Homo sapiens: one gene and its partners. The protein of the gene in region 4 purifies or fractionates together with the protein of the main gene of each other region. This does not show direct contact. Each region holds a gene or a part of one and is shown on either strand. Other genes may lie near its edges.

Region 1 (3,500 bases), 6.4 Mb from region 4:
TCTTCATTTATTAAAATGATAATCATTAAGGTTTTTCTAGTCCTGAGCCTTCTGTTATTCTGTCTGGAGATAAGATATTTAACTGTCTTTTTCATATTTTAGGACCCAGATGATGTGGTACCAGTTGGCCAAAGAAGAGCCTGGTGTTGGTGCATGTGCTTTGGACTAGCATTTATGCTTGCAGGTGTTATTCTAGGAGGAGCATACTTGTACAAATATTTTGCACTTCAAGTAAGTGGAAAAATTATTTTGTGTCTCTGATTTTTTTTTTTTTTTGCCTCTCCCGATGTGCATTACAAAATTGTTTACAACTTGCGCTAAGCTTGTACTTTTTATCTGTGACCTTCAGCCAGAGTGGTAGTTCTATTTTAAAGCTGTGTTTAAACATCTCTCCATGATATGTTTGCTGAGCCCATCACACACAGTCACTAAAAGCAGAGTAACTTGAAATGTTGGTGACTAAGGGATTTATTTAGGTCATTGGGTGATTTTACTAACCTTTATTTTCCTACTATAATTAAGGGTTGAGAGGAATAGTATTATCAATTGCCAGTTGAATAAATACATCAGCCACAAATGTTTTCATGTTGATAGGCCATAACTTGATAGTCAGCTTGGACTCCCCTATGGTCCTGCTGTACCCTTGGGCCCAGAATACAGTAAGACCATGTCTCTGCTTCTTTTCCAGTCATGGTTTCACTAAAGAACTGGGTGACTTCAGCAGTGATATTGAAATAACATAGGATGAAAGTTGTTTATAACTTTGAGTGTTTAATAGTAATCCCAGTGGGTTAAGACAAAGGTCTTCCTTGTGATTGATTATAATTTACAATCTATTTTGTAATATATTTCTCTTGGCAATAATACACAATTTTTTTTTTTAGGAGTTTTGAAGGGGAAATTACTTTCAAGGTTTTATGACTACTTCAGCTGTTTCAAAATTTGGAGAAACAGTTGACAACTAGACTTATTAAAATAATTTAACTAATTTTGAAACATTCTCAATTTCATGCTCATTTTCTGTGTTGTTCAAGATAATCAATCACATGTTGATAGACATTACCAAAATACTAGTCATCTTTTTAAATACAGTTTTATTTACAAGAAATACATATAGTATAGAAAAAATCATCGCAATTCCATTTTCCAGAGATAACATTTGGTGCATTAACTTTTTTTTTTTTCTTGAGACAGAGTTTCTCTCTTGTTGCCCAGACTGGAGTCCAATGGCGCGATCTCGGCTCACTGCACCCTCTGTCTCCCGGGTTCAGGCAATTCTCCTGCCTCAGCCTCCCAAGTAGCTGAGATTACAGGCACCTGCCACCACTCCTGGCTAATTTTTGTACTTTTAGTAGAGACAGGGTTTCATCATGTTGGCCAGGCTGGTCTCAAACTCCTGACCTCAGGCGATCCACCCACCTTGGCCTCCCAAAGTGCTAGGATTACAGGCGTGACACACCATGCCTGGCCCTGTGCATTCACATTTTGTATACCCTTAGTCTTTATTGTGTGTGTAGTGTGTGTAGTGTGTGTGTGTGTGTGTGTGTGTGCGCGCGCGTGTGCGTGCGCGCACGTGTACATGTACTGTGTGTTTGGCTTTTTTTGAGATGGGGTCTCACTCTGTCATCCAGGCTGGAGTGCGGTGGTGCAATCACAGCTCACTGTAGCCTCAACCTCTTGGGCTCAGGCAATCCTCCCGCCTCAACCTCCCCAGGAGTAGCTAGGACTACAGGTGCGTGGCACCATACCCAGCTAATTTTTTTATTTTTTGTGGAGACAGGGTCTCACCATGTTGCCCAGGCTGGTCTTGAACTCCTGGGCTCAAGCAGTCCATCTGTCTCAGGCCTCCTCCCCACAAAGTATTAGGATTACAGGCATGAGTTACTGCACCCGACCTTATGTACTGTTTTTTCTTTTTGTAAAAGTGAGACAGTAGCATAAAGATTTGCTGTAATCTAATATTTTCCACTGAATTGTGATATAAAGGGAAAAGTAGAACTACGTATATGCATATAGAAATTTCAGAAAAATTATCCCTTTTTTGGCTAATAAGAAAAAAGTCATTTAATTAGTAGACCATATCAAAACTTTTTAATATATTCTTTCAGAAAAACTTGACTAGTTTTGGAATGTATTCTTCTATAAAAACTGCTTACAGGTAGAGTAGGTCTGTTGTTTCTTTATATTTATTTGTTACTGGATAGCTAATTATTTTTATGTTCTATTTTCACCTACCAGGAAAAGTAAAGGGAAAACCAGCTGCCTTTCTTCTGAAGCTGTTCTTTTACAGTGCTTCAAAACCTGATCTTAAAGAATATGTTAACTCTGTAATTAAACTGTCTGACTTGTCATCTAAAAGCAAGAGTTTGCAAGCAAAATGCTATTTAGATAGAGGTGGCAGCTTAAGTAATGCTTATTTAAAAACCTGTCTCATGCTGAATTGCTGAAATGAGTCTTTAAACTCTCTATAGCCAGATGACGTGTACTACTGTGGAATAAAGTACATCAAAGATGATGTCATCTTAAATGAGCCCTCTGCAGATGCCCCAGCTGCTCTCTACCAGACAATTGAAGAAAATATTAAAATCTTTGAAGAAGAAGAAGTTGAATTTATCAGTGTGCCTGTCCCAGAGTTTGCAGATAGTGATCCTGCCAACATTGTTCATGACTTTAACAAGGTGAGCCAAGTGTCCAGAATTGTAGAAAGAATGCAGGTTCTGTAGTTTATGCTTTTTGTAGTTTTAATTTCAATATTTGCTAATTTATTATATTTAGAGTTTAGTTTAATAAACTGTCAGCATTTGGTGGGCTCTGCTATGTCTGAAGCAGACCCTGCTGATGCAGCCTTCTCATATCTTATCTCTCCTTCCCCTTGCCTTACCTACTCTTAAAGCCCACCTCATGACTGTTCCTCCTTTGCTGGCAAACTAATATTTTTTATATGTTCCCACATTTTCTTAGATAAGAGGTAATTTATGTTCCTGTTTCTTGGTAGCATTTTCAAAATCAATAATTTTGTTAATCTGTTTTTAAGTTCTCATTCTATATTTTTCCCCAGCTTTTGAGCATTTTTATGTAATGCAGAAAAGTTGAATACCCAAAATCCTCCACTTTGTTCCAAATATTGCCATATTTGCTTCATCTCTTTTTCTGTCATTTGACATAAGTACTTATGCTATTATCTCTCAAGAATGAGTTGTCCTCCTACGTAACCACATAATTATCACATCTAAGAAAATTAACATGATCTTATAGGACAGTAGTCCCCCCTTATCCGTGGGGGATACATGCCAAGACCCCCAGTGGATGTCTGAAACTGCATATAGTACCAAACCCTGTATATACTATGTTTTTTCCTGTTAGTGTACATATATACATATGTTAAAATTTAATTTACAAATTAGCCACAGTAATAGATTAACGACAATAATAATAAAACAGTTATAACAAAATACTATAATAAAAGTTATGTGAAGGTGGTTTCTCAAAATATTTTATTA
Region 2 (3,500 bases), on a different chromosome or scaffold from region 4:
GGTCTTTCAGGCTGACCTCCCTGACCTGCTCTTTTTAATCCTGTTTAGCCTTCCTCAAATGCTATTTTTATCATGTTGCTTGCTTGCTCAGAAACCACTAATAAACCCCTTTGGTGTCTCACAGCAGACCCAACTGCACTGCCTGATTTTCAAATGTAACCATGATTTGGGCCTAACTTTCCCAGACAATCTGGTTTCTGCAAGTCCCAGGTCCAAACCTCTACAGAGGCCAGGCCAGACTCCTCTGGGATCTACAACTTCCCTTCATTTGGAAAGCCCTGTTTCCCGCTCTTGCCTAGACAAACCTGAGCCAATCTCAAGCCCCCTGTACCCATAAAAGCTTTCTTGGGGCAGGCGCTGTGGCTCACGCCTGTAATCCCAGCGCTTTGGGAGGCCGAGGCAGGCGGATCACGAGGTCAGGAGTGAGTTCGAGACCAGCCTGGCCAACATGATGAAACCCTACCTCTACTACAAATACAAAAAATTAGCTGGGGGTGGTGGCAGGCACCTGTAATCCCAACTACTTGGGAGGCTGAGGCAGGAGAATCACTTGAACCCAGGAGGCGGAGGTTGCAGTGAGCCGAGACCGTGCCACTGCACTCCAGCCTGGGCAACAAGAACAAGACTGTGTTTCAAAAAAAAAAAAAAAAAAAAAGCTTTCTTGGGCCAGGCATGGTGGCTCACACCTGTAATCCCAACACTTTGGAAGATCAAGGCAGGAGGAGGGCTTGAGCTTAGGAGTTCGAGACCAGACTAGGCAACACAGCAAGATCCTGTCTCTATTTAAAAAAAAAAATTTTTTTTTTAAAAAGCTTTCTCAACTGATTATTCCAATCTTTACTAAATCTGTTTATTTGAACATGCACAGCATATAAATCAAGAACCACACAATTTCACAATCATGCGTTGTCATTTATCATTAATTATGTGCTTTTCTTTGTTTGTTTGCTTGGTTGTTTTTTGAGAAGGAGTTTCGTTCTTGTTGCCCAGGCTGGAGTGCAATGGTGCGATTTCAGCTCATTACAACCTCTGCCTCCCGGGTTCAAATGATTCTCCTGTCTCAGCCTCCTGAGTAGCTGGGATTATAGGCATGCACCACCATGCCTGGCTAATTTTGTATTTTTAGTAGAGACAGGGTTTCACTGTGTTGGTCAGGCTGGTCTTGAACTCCTGACCTCAGGTGATCCCCTGCCTCGGCCTCCCAAAGTGCTCGGATTACAGGCGTGAGCCACCGTGCCCGGCCAATTATGTTATTTTTGTGTCTTCCCAAATATTACAAAGTTCTTGCATATAAAGTGGGCCATGTTTTATACTTTGGTTTTTGTTTGTTGTTTGAGACAATCTCCCTCTGTCGCCCAGGCTGGAGTGCAATGGCACGATCTTGGCTCACTGCAACCTCTGCCACCCATGTTCATGCAATTCTCCTGCCTCAGCCTCCCGAGTAGCTGGGACTATAGGCGCCCGCCACCACGCCTGGCCAATCTTTTATTTTTAGTAGAGACTGGGTTTCGACATATTGGCCAGGCTGGTCTCAAACTCCTGAGCTCAAGTGATCCGCCCCCTCAGCCTCTCAAAATGCTGGGATTATAGGTGTGAGCCACTGAGCCCAGCCTATACTTTGGTTCTGACCACTAAGAAGCACAGTAGTTAGTGTTATAATGTACTACATAGTGTAACGTATGTACACCATACATTCTAGGCACCCAGTAAATATTTCAGCATTGGCAGACTGACTTCAGCCCTCAGAGGAGCCTCTCTAGGGCTTAAAGAAATAAGTCTCCAATTAGCTACAATTATTGCCAGACCCATAAGCATGATACCCTCCCATGTATCTGTTCCCTCATTATTGATTGAGTTCTGACTACTGCCCGGCTACGTTATGGTCTATGTATCTAGCCATCCTAGGCATTGGAAACCCAGCAGTTTATAGCACATGCTATTGGTGTTCAGCTCATATTTTCCTCAGAACATGCTAAAGGCCACGTTCGAACAGTTTCCTTTCTTTTTGTTTTTTTATTGAGATAGAGTCTCACTCTGTTGTCCAGGCTGGAGTGCAGTGGCACAATCTTGGCTCACTGCAACCTCTGCCTCCCAGGTTCAGGCGACTCTCGTGCCTCAGCCTCCCAAATAGCTGAGACTACAGGCGTGCGCCACTATGCCCAGGTAATTTTTTGTATTTTTAGTAGAGATGGGGTTTCACCGTGTGGGCCAGGATGGTCTCGAACTCCTGACCTCAAGTGATCTGCCTGCCTCTGCCTCCCAAAGTGCTGGGATTACAAGCATGAGCCACCGCACCCGTCCCAGTTTCCTTTCTCTGTTTTTTTGTTTGTTTTTTTTTTTGACGGAGTTTTGTTCTTGTTGCCCAGGCTGCAGGCTGGAGTACAATGGCACAATCTCGGCTCACCGCAACCTCCGCCTCTTGGGTTCAAGCTATTCTCCTGTCTAAGCCTCCCGAGTCGCTAGGATTACAGGCATGCACCACCACGCCCAGCTAATTTTGTATTTTTAGTAGAGACAGGGTTTCTCCATGTTGGTCAGGCTGGTCTCGAACTCCTGACCTCAGGTGATCCGCCCAACTCAGCCTCCCAAAGTGCTGGGATTACAGGCGCGAGCCACCGTGCCCAGCCAATTTCCTTTCTTAAAAAAATTTTTTGTAGAGACGGAGTCTGGCTGTGTTACCCAGGCAGGTCTTGATCTCCTGGCCTCAAGTAATCCTCCTGCTTCAGCCTCCTGAGTTGCTGGGATGACAGATATGAACCACAGCACCCTGGTGGACACAATTTTCTTTCTTTCTTTTTTTTTTTTTTTTGAGACGGAGTCTCGCTCTGTCACCCAGGCTGGAGTGCAGTGGCGCGATCTCGGCTCACCACAAGCTCCACCTCCCAGGTTCACGCCATTCTCCTGCCTCAGCCTCCCGAGTAGCTGGGACTACAGGCGTCCGCCACCGCGCCCAGCTAATTTTTTGTATTTTTAGTAGAGACGGGGTTTCACCATGTTAGCCAGGATGGTCTCGATCAACTGACCTCGTGATCCGCCTGCCTCAGCCTCCCAAAGTGTTGGGATTACAGGCGTGAGCCGCCGCGCCCAGCCTACACAATTTTCTTACAAGCAGTTTCCTGTGTCTCTCTTGCCTCAGATGTTCTCTGCCCACGGAAGCCTCCTTGGGAGGAGCAGAGTCAAAATGTTAGGGAATTAATTCCCCTAGAGTGATCCTGGACCCATGAGGGATGAGAGATGGTGAATAAATACCCTAGCTTCAAGGCCAAGCACAGTGGCTCACACTAGTCATCCCAGCACTTTGAGATGCCAAGGCAGGAGGATCACATGAGCCCAGGAGTTCGAGACCAGCCTGGGCAACATAGTAAGACTTCGTCTCTACAAAAAATAAAAATTAAATTAAAAATTAGCTGGGCACGGTGGCGTTTGCCTGTAGTCCCAGCTACTTAGGAGGCTGGGGTGAAAGGATCACTTGAGCCCAAGAGATTGAGGCTGAAGTGAGC
Region 3 (3,500 bases), on a different chromosome or scaffold from region 4:
TTCAAGCGATTCTCCTGCCTCAGCCTCCCGAGTAGCTGGGATTACAGACATGCACCACCACGCCTAGCTAACTTTGTATTTTTTAAATAGAGACAGGGTTTCTTCATGTTGGTCAGGCTTGTCTTGAACTCTCAATCTCAGGCAATCCGCCTGCCTCAGCCTCCCAAAGTGCTGGGATTACAGCGTGAGCCACCGCGCCCAGCCTGAGGGGGCTATTAAAGTAACAAGTAGATCTGAGGAAAGCAGGTTCACTGAAAGATCAGTTTGCCAATGACTGGCGGGCCAGATGCACCATATTTGCCAACACTTGTTTCTTCTTAACAATTTTAAAGGTTTAGAGGCCACCCACGCTGGCTCATGCCTGTAATCCCAACACTTTGGGAGGCTGAGCCAGGAGGATCACCTGAGGCCAGGAATTCAAAACCAGCCTGGGCAACATAGTGAGACACCCCACCACCCCCACCCCCACCATCTCTACAAAAAAACTTAAAAATTAGCCAGGCATGGTGGCACACTGTTGTCCCAGCTACTCAGGAGGTTGAGATGGGAGGATCGCTTGAGCCCATAGGGTCAAGGTGGCAGTGAGCCATGATGAAGCCACTGCACTCCAACATGGACAACAAAGTGAGGCTATGCCTTAAAAAAAAAAAAAAAAAAAAAAAAAAAAAAAAAAAAAAAAAAAAAAGGGCCGGGCGCGGTGGCTCACGCCTGTAATCCCAGCACTTTGGGAGGCCGAGGCAGGCAAATCACCTGAGGTTGGGAATTCAAGACCAGCCTGACCAACATGGAGAAACCCCGTCTCTCTACTAAAAAACAAAAAATACAAAATTAGCCAGGCGTGGTGGCAGACACCTGTAATCCCAGCTACTCGGGAGGCTGAGGCAAGATAATCACTTGAACCCAGGAAGTGGAGGGTACAGTGAGCCGAGATCGTGGCATTGCACTCCAGCCTGGGCAACAAGAGCAAAACTCCGTCTCAAAAAAAAAAAAAAAAAAAGGGCAGGAAGACCTACTGAAAGCCCCATCCTTGGAGCCCTGGCATCTCACAGCACCTTAAGCTTTGCCAGTCCCTCCAATACAAATTGCTATCAACTTTGATCATTTTTACAAATATTTTTCACAAATAGGAAATTTAGGAAATTCAGTGCATTGGCAACTTGTGAGTACCTTTTCAGTGAGATTCCTGGAGGAGGAAGACACCAAAAGGAGGGGAATTTGGACAAGAGGACGGGAGGGAGGAAGAGTGGAGGAAAAGCTTGGCCAGGTGTGGTGGCTCACGCCTGTAATCCCAGCACTTTGGGAGGCAAAAGCAGGCAGATCACCTGAGGTCAGGAGTTCGAGACCAACCTGGGCAACATGGCGAAACCCAGTCTCTACTAAAAATACAAAATTAGCCGGGTGTGCTGGCAGATGCCTATAGTCCCAGCTACTCCAGAGGCTGAGGCAGAAGAATCACTTGAACCCAGGAGGCAGAGGTTGCAGTGAGCCAAGATTGCACCATTGCACTCCAGCCTGGGCAACGAGAGCAAAACCCCATCTCAAAAACAAAACAAAACAAAAAAAGTCCAGGCGCGGTGGCTCATGCCCGTAAACCCAGCACTTTGGGAGGCTGAGGCGGGCAGATCACCTGAGGTCGGGAGTTTGAGACCAGCCTGACCAACATGGAGAAACCCCGTCTGTACTAAAAATACAAAATTAGCCAGGTGTGTTGGCACATGCCTGTAATCCCAGCTTCTTGGGAGGCCGAGGCGGGAGAATTGCTTGAACCTGGGAGGCAGAGGTCACGGTGAGCCGAGATCGCGCCATTGCACTCCAGCCTGGGCAACAAGAGCAAAACTCCGTCTAAAAAAATAAAAAGAAGAAGAAGAAGAAGAAGAAGAAGAAGGAAAGGCTTGAAGCTGTTGAAGCTGGCGTGGGGGAGGATTTAATGAGGGGGCGGAGCCCAGAGGGATAACGGACTGAGGGAAGCATGTGACCTCCAAGCTGAGGGGCAATGGGAGTCATGGCAGCCATGGTGGTCAGGTAAGTAACTTGCAGAGGCATCTTTGAACTGTAGGTCAGAAGACCAGTGAGGACGCGGGGGCAGAAACACAGTGGGGAGAAGATGGGGGCCTGCATTGAGGGAGGCAGGGAGAGAAGGGGACTGCTAGGAGAGAGATTTACGGGTAGAATTGAATGTAAAAGTGTCTGATTGAAAAGCTCTAACTCTTTAAGAGCTTAAAAACCACTCCCCTGTTTGTATCTTGAATCTCATTCCTGCTGGGACACCCAGTGATTCATGCCAGGGCACAGTTGTTTGCTGTATGGGGGTGGTAGTGAGTAAGCAGGAGTTGGGTAAACGGAGGTTCTGACACCTCCCACCCACGCCCCACTCCCACACACAGCCCCTTAATAGAGTGGGCGGGGAAAAATCCTTACTAATCACTGGGTATGAAGCGAGAAGAGTCTAAGTTTGTATCTTCCGTTTGAAAGGTAATTGTTTTTTGTTTTTTTCTTTTCTTAAAAAAACACACTGGCATGAAGCGCACCTGCGTGCAGGCAAATGAGGCAAGGCTGAGCCCAGAGGGCGAGCGAGTTACTGCGCGCGCACCTCACCCGCCCCCTGCATTCCCCTCCTTCGCCGGCAGGTGGAGATGACGGGCAGCAGCGTCTTCGACTACATTCACCCTGGGGACCACTCAGAGGTGCTGGAGCAACTGGGGCTGCGGACGCCGACGCCCGGCCCCCCAACCCCGCCCTCCGTCTCCTCTTCCTCCTCCTCTTCCTCTTCGCTTGCAGATACCCCCGAGATCGGTAATTCTAAGGGCTCCTAAAGAATGAAGTCTGAGGGTAGATCGGGGGACGCCCGCTGTACTGTATCCAGCCATGCCGCGTTTATACAAATAGCAGTGAAGTTAGAACTGTGTAGAACGAATCTTTGCAAAAGGAATCGGAGTATAAATTGAGGCGGTGAGACTTGGTTCCTTAAGCTTGCCAAACTCCCAAAGATTCGAGCTACAGAAAGACCCCCCTGGCTGCTGAAAGGAGTTGGGAGAGGCTTAGGTAAATAACAAGGCAGGCTTATTGGGAATATACACCGGCTGTGTCTGTAAGTGCACAATCACATTACATAATTACGTTAGGGCCGGGCGCGGCGGCTCGCGCCTGTAACCCCGGCACTTCGGGAGGCCCAGGGGGGCGGATCACTTGAGCTCGGTTGGAGACCAGCCTGGGCAACATAGTGAAACCTCATCTCTACAAAAATTACAAAAAAGGCCAGGAGTGGTGGCACAAAGCTGTAGCCCCAGCACTTTGGGAGGCCGAGGCGGGTGGGTCACCTAAAGTCAGGAGTTTGAGACCAGCCTGGCTTGCATAGTGAAACCCCATCTCTACTAAAAATACAAAAAAAAAAAAAAAATTAGCTGGGTATGGTGGGGGGTGCCTGAGTCCCAGCTACTCGGGAGGCTGAGGCAGAAGGATCACTTGAACCCAGGAGATGGATGTTGCAGTGAGCAGAGATT
Region 4 (3,500 bases):
CAGGTTAAAACCAATTACCATCATCATTTATTTTTATGCTCAAATTGTCCCAGATTTCAGCCACTTCAACCTGGGAACTCCATCATTTTGACATATCGACATCATTTGTTGAATATTTCCTTACTCTCTGGCACAAAAAGATGGTCCAGGCTCATCTTCTGCATTCCCTGACCTAATCCTTTTAGAGAGCATGGTATTTAGAAACCAATGTCCAGGTACTTGGTATGATCACTGCTACTAGAACATCATAGTTTTTTTTTGCCGGGGGGGGGGGGGGGGGGGTAAGGTCACAGATCAACAGGATAAGAATTTTTCTTAGTACAGAACAAAATGAAAAGTCTCCCATGTCTACCTCTTTCTACACAGACACGGCAACCATCCGATTTCTCAATCTTTTCCCCACCTTTCCCCCCTTCTGTTCCACAAAACCGCCATTGTCATCATGGCCCGTTCTCAATGAGCTGTTGGGTACACCTCCCAGACGGGGTGGTGGCCAGGCAGAGGGGCTCCTCACTTCCCAGTAGGGGCGGCTGGGCAGAGGGCTCCTCACTTCCCAGTAGGGGCGGCCGGGCAGAGGCGCCCCTCACCTCCCGGACGGGGCGGCTGGCCGGGCTGGGGGCTGACCCCCCCACCTCCCTCCTGGACGGGGCGACTGGCTGGGCAGAGGAGCTCCTCACTTCCCAGTAGGGGCGGCCGGGCAGAGGTGCCCCTCACCTCCCGGACGGGGCGGCTGGCCGGGCGGGGGGCTGACCCCCCCACCTCCCTCCCGGACGGGGCGGCTGGCCTGGCGGGGGCTGACCCCCACCTCCCTCCCGGACGGGGTGGCTGCTGGGCGGAGACGCTCCTCACTTCCCAGACAGGGTGACTGCCGGGACGGAGGGGCTCCTCACTTCTCAGATGGGGCGGCTTCCGGGCGGAGGGGCTCCTCACTTCTCAGACGGGCGGTTGCCAGGCGGAGGGTCTCCTCACTTCTCAGACGGGGCGGCCGGGCAGAGACGCTCCTCACCTCCCAGACGGGGTCGCGGCCGGGTGGAGGTGCTCCTCACATCCCAGACGGGGCGGCAGGGCAGAGGCTCTCCCCACATCTCAGACGATGGGCGGCCGGGCAGAGACGCTCCTCACTTCCTAGATGGGATGGCGACCGGGAAGAGGCGCTCGTCACTTCCTAGATGGGATGGCGGCCGGGCAGAGACGCTCCTCACTTTCCAGACTGGGCAGCCAGGCAGAGGGGCTCCTCACGTCCCAGACGACGGGCGGCCAGGCAGAGACGCTCCTCACTTCCCAGACGGGGTGGCGGCCAGGCAGAGGCTGCAATCTCGGCACTTTGGGAGGCCAAGGCAGGCAGCTGGGAGGTGGAGGTTGTAGCGAGCCGAGATCACACCACTGCACTCCAGCCTGGGCACCATTGAGCACTGAGTGAACCAGACTCCGTCTGCAATCCCAGCACCCCGGGAGGCCAAGGCTGGCGGATCACTCGCGGTTAGGAGCTGGAGACCAGCCCGGCCAACACAGCGAAACCCCGTCTCCACCAAAAAAATACGAAAACCAGTCAGGCGTGGCGTCGCGCGCCTGCAATCGCAGGCACTCGGCAGGCTGAGGCAGGAGAATCAGGCAGGGAGGTTGCAGTGAGCCGAGATGGCAGCAGTACAGTCCAGCTTCGGCTGGGCATCAGAGGGAGACCGTGGAAAGAGAGGGAGAGGGAGACCGTGGGGAGAGGGAGAGGGAGAGGGAGAGCAATCCTATTTTTTTAACTAAATATGAGAACATCATAGTTTTTAGGCTGCCTTAGGAGACAGCTAGAAAATATGTGTATGTATACATATACACATACTATCTCTATCTATTTGTTCATATATATTGTTTAAAAAAAGTCATGATTCATAATAACACCAATTCCAATCCAATACCTTAGAGTTTTTTCTTGCCTTCCCCCTTTCCATGGTTATAAATCCCTCATCCAACAGTGAGAAGCATAACTCTTATTATCCTTAATATATTCATTCATTTGCTCAATCTATTTACTTATTTGCTCAACATAACCAATCTCCCAATCACACCAGCCCCTGTGTGTTTGCTGCCCTATTTATCACAGCTGTCTTCTTGTTGGAATGCTGATACCTCCATGCCTGGTAAAGAATGGAGGGGAAGGGAAAGGAAAGAAATAAGGATGGGGAGAGAAAAATAGGAAAGGTGGGGAAAGGAGTGAGGGGAAGATGGGAAAAGGCAAGGGAAGGGAAAATGGGAAAAGAAAGGAAAGAAAGGGAAGCAGACACTCACCTTTAAAACACCTTCCACAGCCATCTTCCCTTCATGACCTAGTAAAATACTATATGGATAAAGCCACTGGATTGCATGTTTGATTGGCATCATAGGAAAGGAATCCTATGTAGGAGCAAAAATACATAGGAATGAGCAAAATTCAAAATAATCACAGAAAACATCTGAAATGTACATATGACATTAAAATTGACTTATAAAAGTAACCAATAGGTGTCTGGTATTTTCTGTAAGTCTACAAAAGCAAATATTCATTATTTTCTCTTCTCATTCCTTGCCCTTTCTCTGGGTAAGCTTACCCATTCCCATCTTTCATTTATCTTCTATGTATTGATGGCTCCCACACTTCTATGTCTGGTCTTGACTTCTTTCTTGAGCTCTAAACCTGAACCCTCAATTGTTCATTACATGTGACTATATGAATATCCCATAGACCCCCATTTGAAACAGAATACATGTCTCTACCTTATTCATCCCAAAGTACCTGATCCCTTTTTATTCCTAAGTTAATCTCATCCACATTCACTTAGCTTCACAGTTATAACTACAAAATTAGAAAGTATTCATTATCCTCAAATCCTTCCTCACATTATCTGCACTGTCAATTCTGTTCACCCCACTTTAAAAGTCTGTTGACAAGAAAGATTAGTGAAATTTCAATATGAACTATCTATTAGATGATACTATGGATTACTGTTAACATGATATGAAGTGTGATAATGTTGTTCTGGTTATGTAGAAGAATGTCCTAATTCTTAGAAGTTGCATACTGATATGGTTTGGCTGTGTCCCCACCCAAATCTCATCTTGAATTGTAGCTCCCACAATCCCCACGTGTCATGGGAGGGACCCAGTGGGAGACAACTGAATCATGGAGGCAGTTAACCTCCATGCTGTTCTCATGATAGTGAGTTCTCATGAGATCTGATGGCTTTATAAAGGGCTTTTCCCCTCCTTCACTCTGCACTTTTCTCTCCTGCCACCATGTGAAGGACGTGTTTGCTTCCTCTTCCACCACGATTGTAAGTTTCCTGAGGCCTCCATAGCCTTGCAGAACTGTGAGTCAATTAAACCTCTTTTCTTTATAAATTACCCAGTCTCAGGTATTTCTTCATAGCAGCGGGAGAACGAACTGATACACACACTGAAGTATTTAAGAGTACTGACTGCAATTTACTTCCAAATGGTTCAGGAAAAAAAAAAAGAAAAAAGCACATGCAAAC
Region 5 (3,131 bases), on a different chromosome or scaffold from region 4:
AATGCAAACATGCTACCAACAACTAAATTCCTCAAAGTCTTTTGCTTCCCCTCCCCTATCTGAATGCATATAGAACCCACTTGAAGGAACAGGTGTGACACAGCATGTGCCAAGAGTAGACGGGCTCCCTTGTTGCTAGAAGATAACGCCAATATGGGAACCCCTGTACTGAGAACTACCTTATCTCTCCCAGCCACCTTCGGCCGCCTAGAAGTCAGACAGCTAGAGGATGCTAGAGGAAGTCCAGCTAAATTTGCCCACACAGTTTAGTAGCTATTTATTAAGTTAACACATGAGATGATTTTCCATGTGTTAACATGTACCGTTCTTGTGATCTCATTTAAACTAATGAGTCTTCAAGGTATTTTAATGCTATCCTGTCTGCAGAAAAGATGGTCAGGAAACCTTTCTGGAGGGCAATTCAGCACAATTGGTATCAAGAACTTAAAACTATAATCTAACTCCAGTAATTTACTTTAAGGAAATAAAAATGCAAAATATATGCATAAGGTTGTTCATTGTAATATATGTAATTAGAAAAACAGTACACAAAATGTTGAATATGGGAATGGCTTAGTTAAGGTATACTCACATGATAGGGTATTATACAAATATTAAAAATGGCATTTTTGAACAATATCTAATAAGTGAAATGCTTAAGATATCAAGAAATTAAAATGTAGGCTATAAAATTCTATACAATATTACCTCAACTTTGAAAAACATTTACATATTTAATACATCTACATGCATAGAAAAAAAAACTAAAAGATAGCAAATCAATTAATCTACGAGGAATTAAAATTTTTTGTTTTTTTGACTTTCAAAGTTTCTTATGTTATATACAGATTAATTTCTTTCAAGAACCAGAAGCTAAAGAGAACCAAAATCTGAAAGACCCATCCTGTGGCAGTCACTGAGCTAGGAGAATTTTACCAATTATTCAATCTCCATAGTAATCATGAGAGGTAGGAATCTCAAGTCCATCTTACAGATGAGGAACTAGGCTCCACAATTTAAGTAATTGCTCAGGGTGCCACAGATTCGAGCCTAGGCAGTCCCCATGTTTCCTGCTGCACCAAATGCCTCACCTGCTGTGGCTCCTAATAGGACGTTGGGAGACTTACAACAAAGGTCATTGACAAAACAGAGCTGTGTATAGCTTTCCCAAGAGCAATTGCTTTCTAAACTCTCTATTTCTCTCTCAAAGCAGAAAACTCTTTTAAATCCCCTGGACAAGAAATGGAATCTTCTTCACTGCTAGGGCTCGAGGTTCCATCCCAAAGCAGTTTTGATCCAGACGCCCAGCTCCACAAGTCTGTGCCCTCTCAGAGCCTACTCCCTCATAGCCGTGGTATCAGCTATCCTGCTTACTAGTTTGGCATTTTGTCAGGTTATGAGCAGAAGGACAGGGCAGACTGCACACCCCCACCCCTTCCCGCCAGCTGGCTCCTTGGTCTCTTCCTTGGATACTAAAACAAACAGGCTGTGTGCACTGGCTCCCTACATAATCCAAGGGGTGAGGGGAGCAACAAATATCCCAGCTATGTGAACAATTGGAGGAATATCTGACAACACATTTGATATTTTGTAACTGTTTCAGCCAAATAGGGTCTCCAGGCTGGGGAGTCCCTTCACACCCAAAGCCTTGTTGTTCAGCTGGGCTCTAGGTACTGCCTTGGAGAGAGCTGCCCAACCCCCCAGCTGGCTCTGTTCCACATGGATCCCAGTGATACTGGGATACTGCACATCCTCATGAAGGACATAGAGGTAGAATTTTCACTACTGTTCCAAGACCTCTTCATCGCTTCCTGTTCCCTCCCAGAGGCAGAGACAGGAAAATTATTTGGATGGTCACAGCAAGTCAGTGACGTTCAGGATTGAAGCATGCAGCGCCATAGTTCATAATTTTAAAAATAGAACTCCCTAGGGATTTTGATCTGAGAAGAGGGAGAAGGGGACATGGAGAATGGCTCATGACACCACAAAACAGCAACAGCAATAACCTGGTCCTTTTTGATTCAGACTCTTTACCTCTTTCTGTACCCACATAAGATGATTGCATGTTCACAAAAGTTTGAGAAATACTGGGTTAAACAAGGTTAAACAGATTAAGTTACTGTAGGACTTCAAAGAACTTTTAATTTGCTCACGCATACTCCAAAGATTTTATAAAAAAAGTATTTCTTAAACTTAGTTATAAAAAGAAGGATTCCATAGGCACGAGGACCCCAGTGAACAAGTTTTGGGAAGTGCTGCTCCACGGTGGGCCCATAAGAGTCTTGTAAAGATAGAAAAGTAGGCCCCAAAAACAAACTCTTTCCCACCAGCCATCAGTTACTATCTTCAAAACTGCAGTGTGGGCTCAATGTTGTCATTCTGTACTCTCCTGTCTTCAGCAGGGTTTATGGTATTTTTCCACTTGCTGGTCAAATCTCCTGGAAGAATACCCTGCCTGGAAAAAGTTCACTGGAGTCAGAAGATATTTGAGTGCTAGACCCCTGAATTCAGTAGCTAGAAGAGGGGTGCCCTTGCTGCTGTGGGACAGGGGAGAACCATGGCCCATCCAGGCACTCTGATTCCCTGTGGCTTCTGGACCTCCATCATCATCTCCCATGGGTACCAAGGGGGACCCTAAACCAATTTCCTCCCTGGTTTTTTGAGAAATAAACTCCTCATCTGTAGACCTTAAGTGCACTGAAAATCCCAGTGGGGCCGTCAACATAGTCACCCTCTTTTGAGACTCACAGAAAGGCACTGCCTTGTTCCATTCTTTGCTATAGAGATCTGGGAACAACTGCTTCTTGATCCGCAAAGGATGGTGGGAAGGCTGCTTTTCAAGGTCCGCAGGCCAGGGAGAAAGTTTCTCTTTCTTGGCCTTCTTTGAGTCTCTGTCAGCTTGAGATTGATCAGCACTTTCCTCAGGGGATTCAAACACAACACCTTGGGTTCTCGGCCTCTTTAGCCTCCTTTCTAACAGCCAGAGAAGGCTTGGTTTTCTAGAGGAAGAACTCATGTATTGCTGTACAGAGTCCGGAATCAGGGGCACGGAGATCCTGGGGCTCAGACTGTCCTGAAAGCCTCCACAGGGCCGCCGACTTACAATGGGCACCACCTGGCAAGGCTTCAGT
Region 6 (3,500 bases), on a different chromosome or scaffold from region 4:
CCATCTTCTCTGAGTGCCTCCCATTGGCTCAATCCCACTGGAAGCCAGAAGGCCTGGGGAACTGGGACAACAGGGACCAATACGTGTCAGAGAAGGACAGACGATGGACCTGGTGGGTGTGTGGGGCAAATGGAGGACCTCCTGTATACCCCCAGCACCCCCAGGCTTGGGACTCTTGCTGGCATCTGCACCTTTGTAGTGGCAGTGCCCTACTGGATAAACCTGTCAGTCCTTCTCCACCTGGCAAACTCCTGCATCTTCAGTCTCATTTGGACATTCCCGTTTCTGTACCTCCATCGTGGTACTCAACACACAGCAATCAAGACTGCCTGCCCACGACTCTGCCCCCTCCCTGGACCAAGCTCCTTCAAGGAGTGACCCCATCTTTTAATTGTTGAGAGCACGCAGTAAATGGCAGGTGAGCAGGGCTAGGGTGACATGAGTGAGGCAGTAGCCCTTGGTGTGAGATTTAAGCGGGGGAGGAAGGGAGTTTGCTAGAAATCTTAGTAATCAAGACAAAATATTTGAATACAATATTTAAAAAAAAATCAAATCATCAAACTACAGCCCATGGGTTGGCTACCTCTTTTGAGCGCCCACCCAAACTGGAATAGCTCCCAAGACCTCTAGCATGGTGTTCAAAAATTATTTTTGAGTTGGGCGCAGTGGCTTATGCCTGTAATCTCAGCACTTTGGGAGGCCGAGGCGGGCTGATCACTAGGTCAGGAGATTGAGATCATCCTGGCTAACGCGGTGAAACCCCGTCTGTACTAAAATTACAAAAAATTAGCTGAGCTTGGTGGCACGCACCTGTAGTCCCAGCTACTCGGGAGGCTGAGGCAGGAGAATTTCTTGAACCCAGGAGGCGGAGGTTGCAGTGAGCAACCTCCACTCCAGCCTGGGCGACAGAGCGAGACTCTGTCTCAAAAAAAAAAAAAAAGGGTTCACAATGCAGGACTCATCTTTACTTAACATACCCTCTATTCACCCTGATATTTTCTATTCTAGTCTAGTTTATTTGGCGTCATTAAAAAGTGCTGCTCATACCTTTCTTTTCTTTTCTTTCTTTTTTCTTTTTTTTGAGATAGAGTTTCACTCTTGTTGCCCAGGCTGGAGTGCAATGGCATGATCTTGGCTCACCACAACCTCTGCCTCCTGGGTTCAAGCGATTCTCCTGCCTCAGCCTCCCGAGTAGCTGGGATTACAGACATGTGACACCATGCCTGGCTAATTTTGTATTTTTAGTAGAGACGGGGTTTCTCCATGTTGGCCAGGCTGGCCTCAAACTCCCAACCTCAGGTGATCCGCCCGCCTCAGCCTCCCAAAGTCCTGGGATTATAAGCGTGAGCCACCATGCCCAGCCTGCCCATAACCTTTCAAATTCTGGCTTGAAAAACATTGAGCCTGTCATATCATCCTGCTTAATTTTCTCTGCTTTTAGCTGCCTGATACTTCCTTCTTATGATTTGTCTCTTTGCTGATCTCCCGTCTTGCCTTCGGGGTACAGCTCCCTGAAAGCAGGAACCCCATCTAGCTTGTCACTGCTGTCTTCTCAGCTCCGGGAACAGCGTCTGGCACGTAGGCGGCAGGTGTCCCGCAGTGAGCTGTTGAGCAAGCGAGTGAGTGGTGTTGGAGCAGAGGGGATGTGGGCCCTGGAAGCCAGGCTTTTCTAATTGCCTTGTTTTCCTCCCCTTCCCAGTTTGCCCTGGGGCCCCAGCCTGGCCCGGGTCACCCTGGCATGAGGAGATGGGCCTGTTGCTCCTGGTCCCGTTGCTCCTGCTGCCCGGCTCCTACGGACTGCCCTTCTACAACGGCTTCTACTACTCCAACAGCGCCAACGACCAGAACCTAGGCAACGGTCATGGCAAAGGTAGGCGACCTCCTGCACCCGGCTCTTTGCTCCCCTGGGTGACCTAGACCTCCTTGGCTCTTGCTGTGATCTGAGGGTTCCAGGCTGGGACAGGGACAGCAGCCCTGTTCCAGCAGGGCCCTTGTAGTGGGCCAGCTTGCTTCTCAGACAGGGGAAGGGGTGAGTTCATTTTCCTGTGTTCGCCAGCCCCTTCGTCATGGGGCCCAATTCACTTAGGCTTTTTACTTTCCCTAAAAGTCTTGCCAGTTGTTCAAGGTCCAGCTTGAATGTGTCCTCCCCTGGTCCCCCCAGTGGAAAGGGGACCTGGGGTCGAATAGATGTGAGTTTGAATGTTTTTTTTGTTTGTTTTTGAGATAAAGTCTCACTCTGTTGCCGAGGCTGGAGTGCAATGGCACGATCTCGGCTCACTGCAACCTCTGCCTCCCGGGTTCAAGCGATTCTCCTGCCTCGGCCTCCCGAGTAGCTGGGATTACAAGCATGTGCCACCATGCCTGGCTACTTTTTGTATTTTTAGTAGAGAAGGGGTTTCACCATGTTGGCCAGGCTGGTCTTGAACTCCTGACCTCAGGTGATCCACCTGCCTCGACCTCCCAAATTGCTGGGATTACAGGCATAAGCCACCATGCCTGGCCCGAGTTTGAATCTTATAATTCTACCTCTTACTAGCTGTGTGGCCTTGGGCAGGGAACGTTTTAAAGTAGCAGTTATTGTGCACCCAACATGGGTTGGGCGCGCTTCTAGATATTTTGCATATGTCGTCTCCTGTAATCACAAAAGCCCTGATGTAGGCAAGGGTGAAAATATACCTTTTTTTTTTTTTTTTTAAGATGGAGTCTCACTTTGTTGTCCAGGCTGGAGTGCAGTGGCGCGATCTTGGCTCACTGCAGCCTCTGCCTCCCAGGTTCAAGCGATTCTCCTGCCTCAGCCTCCCAAGCAGCTGGGATTACAGGCATCTGCCACCACACCTGGCTAATTTTTGTACTTTTAGTAGAAATGGGGGTTTCTCCATGTTGGCCAGGCTGGTCCTGAACTCTTGACCTCAGGTGATCCACCCGCCTCAGCCTCCCAAAATGCTGGGATTACAGGCGTGAGCCAACGAGCCTTGCCGAAAATACACATTTTTAACCATTAGTGCAGCACGGGTGCTGACCAGGCTGAATTGATGCTGTCTGCCCTCACAGCCTGAAAGTAGATTCTATTATCATCCCTTCTCATAGATGAGCAAACTAGGCTCAGAGAGTTGATCCAGTTGTCCAGGTCAAACAGCTATTAAAAAGACAAAGCTGAGGGCTGGGTGCAGTGGCTCATGCCTATAATCCCAGCACTTTGGGAGACTGAGGTGAGTGGATCACTTGAGGTCAGGAGTTCAAGGCCAGCCTGGCCAACATACCGAAACCCTCTACTAAAGATACAAAAAATTGGCCAGGCGCGGTGACTCACACCTGTAATCCCAGCACTTAAGGAGGCCGAGGTGGATGGATCACGAGGTCAAGAGATCAAGACCATTCTGACCAACCTGGTGAAATCCTGTCTCTACTAAAAATACAAAAGTAGCCGGGCGTGGTGGCAGGTGCCTTTAATCCCAGCTTCTCAGGAGGCTGAGGCAGGAGAATTGCTTGAACCTGGGAGG

Evidence for each region.
Region 1: the proteins of VWA8 (region 4) and ITM2B purify together in Homo sapiens (co-immunoprecipitation; one large-scale study listed by IntAct). This does not show direct contact.
Region 2: the proteins of VWA8 (region 4) and SIRT4 purify together in Homo sapiens (co-immunoprecipitation; one large-scale study listed by IntAct). This does not show direct contact.
Region 3: the proteins of VWA8 (region 4) and NPAS1 purify together in Homo sapiens (co-immunoprecipitation; one large-scale study listed by IntAct). This does not show direct contact.
Region 5: the proteins of VWA8 (region 4) and DCLRE1B purify together in Homo sapiens (co-immunoprecipitation; one large-scale study listed by IntAct). This does not show direct contact.
Region 6: the proteins of VWA8 (region 4) and HAPLN3 purify together in Homo sapiens (co-immunoprecipitation; one large-scale study listed by IntAct). This does not show direct contact.

The regions. Positions count from the first base shown.
Region 1 is NC_000013.11:48,253,706-48,257,205, forward strand, and holds part of ITM2B (integral membrane protein 2B), read left to right. Parts: intron 1-102; coding exon 103-231; intron 232-2,471; coding exon 2,472-2,678; intron 2,679-3,500. UniProt on the Homo sapiens protein: Plays a regulatory role in the processing of the amyloid-beta A4 precursor protein (APP) and acts as an inhibitor of the amyloid-beta peptide aggregation and fibrils deposition. Plays a role in the induction of neurite outgrowth.
Region 2 is NC_000012.12:120,305,321-120,308,820, reverse strand, and holds part of SIRT4 (NAD-dependent protein lipoamidase sirtuin-4, mitochondrial), read right to left. Parts: intron 1-3,500. UniProt on the Homo sapiens protein: Acts as a NAD-dependent protein lipoamidase, biotinylase, deacetylase and ADP-ribosyl transferase. Catalyzes more efficiently removal of lipoyl- and biotinyl- than acetyl-lysine modifications.
Region 3 is NC_000019.10:47,033,337-47,036,836, forward strand, and holds part of NPAS1 (neuronal PAS domain-containing protein 1), read left to right. Parts: intron 1-1,980; exon of another isoform or gene 1,981-2,022; intron 2,023-2,627; coding exon 2,628-2,793; intron 2,794-3,500. UniProt on the Homo sapiens protein: May control regulatory pathways relevant to schizophrenia and to psychotic illness. May play a role in late central nervous system development by modulating EPO expression in response to cellular oxygen level.
Region 4 is NC_000013.11:41,881,110-41,884,609, forward strand, and holds part of VWA8 (von Willebrand factor A domain-containing protein 8 isoform a precursor), read right to left. Parts: intron 2,383-3,500; coding exon 2,278-2,382; intron 1-2,277. UniProt on the Homo sapiens protein: Exhibits ATPase activity in vitro.
Region 5 is NC_000001.11:113,911,456-113,914,586, reverse strand, and holds the end of DCLRE1B (5' exonuclease Apollo), read right to left. Parts: coding exon 2,396-3,131; 3' UTR 501-2,395; downstream 1-500.
Region 6 is NC_000015.10:88,885,545-88,889,044, reverse strand, and holds part of HAPLN3 (hyaluronan and proteoglycan link protein 3 isoform 2 precursor), read left to right. Parts: exon of another isoform or gene 1-1,619; intron 1,620-1,699; coding exon of another isoform or gene 1,700-1,746; coding exon 1,747-1,870; intron 1,871-3,500. UniProt on the Homo sapiens protein: May function in hyaluronic acid binding.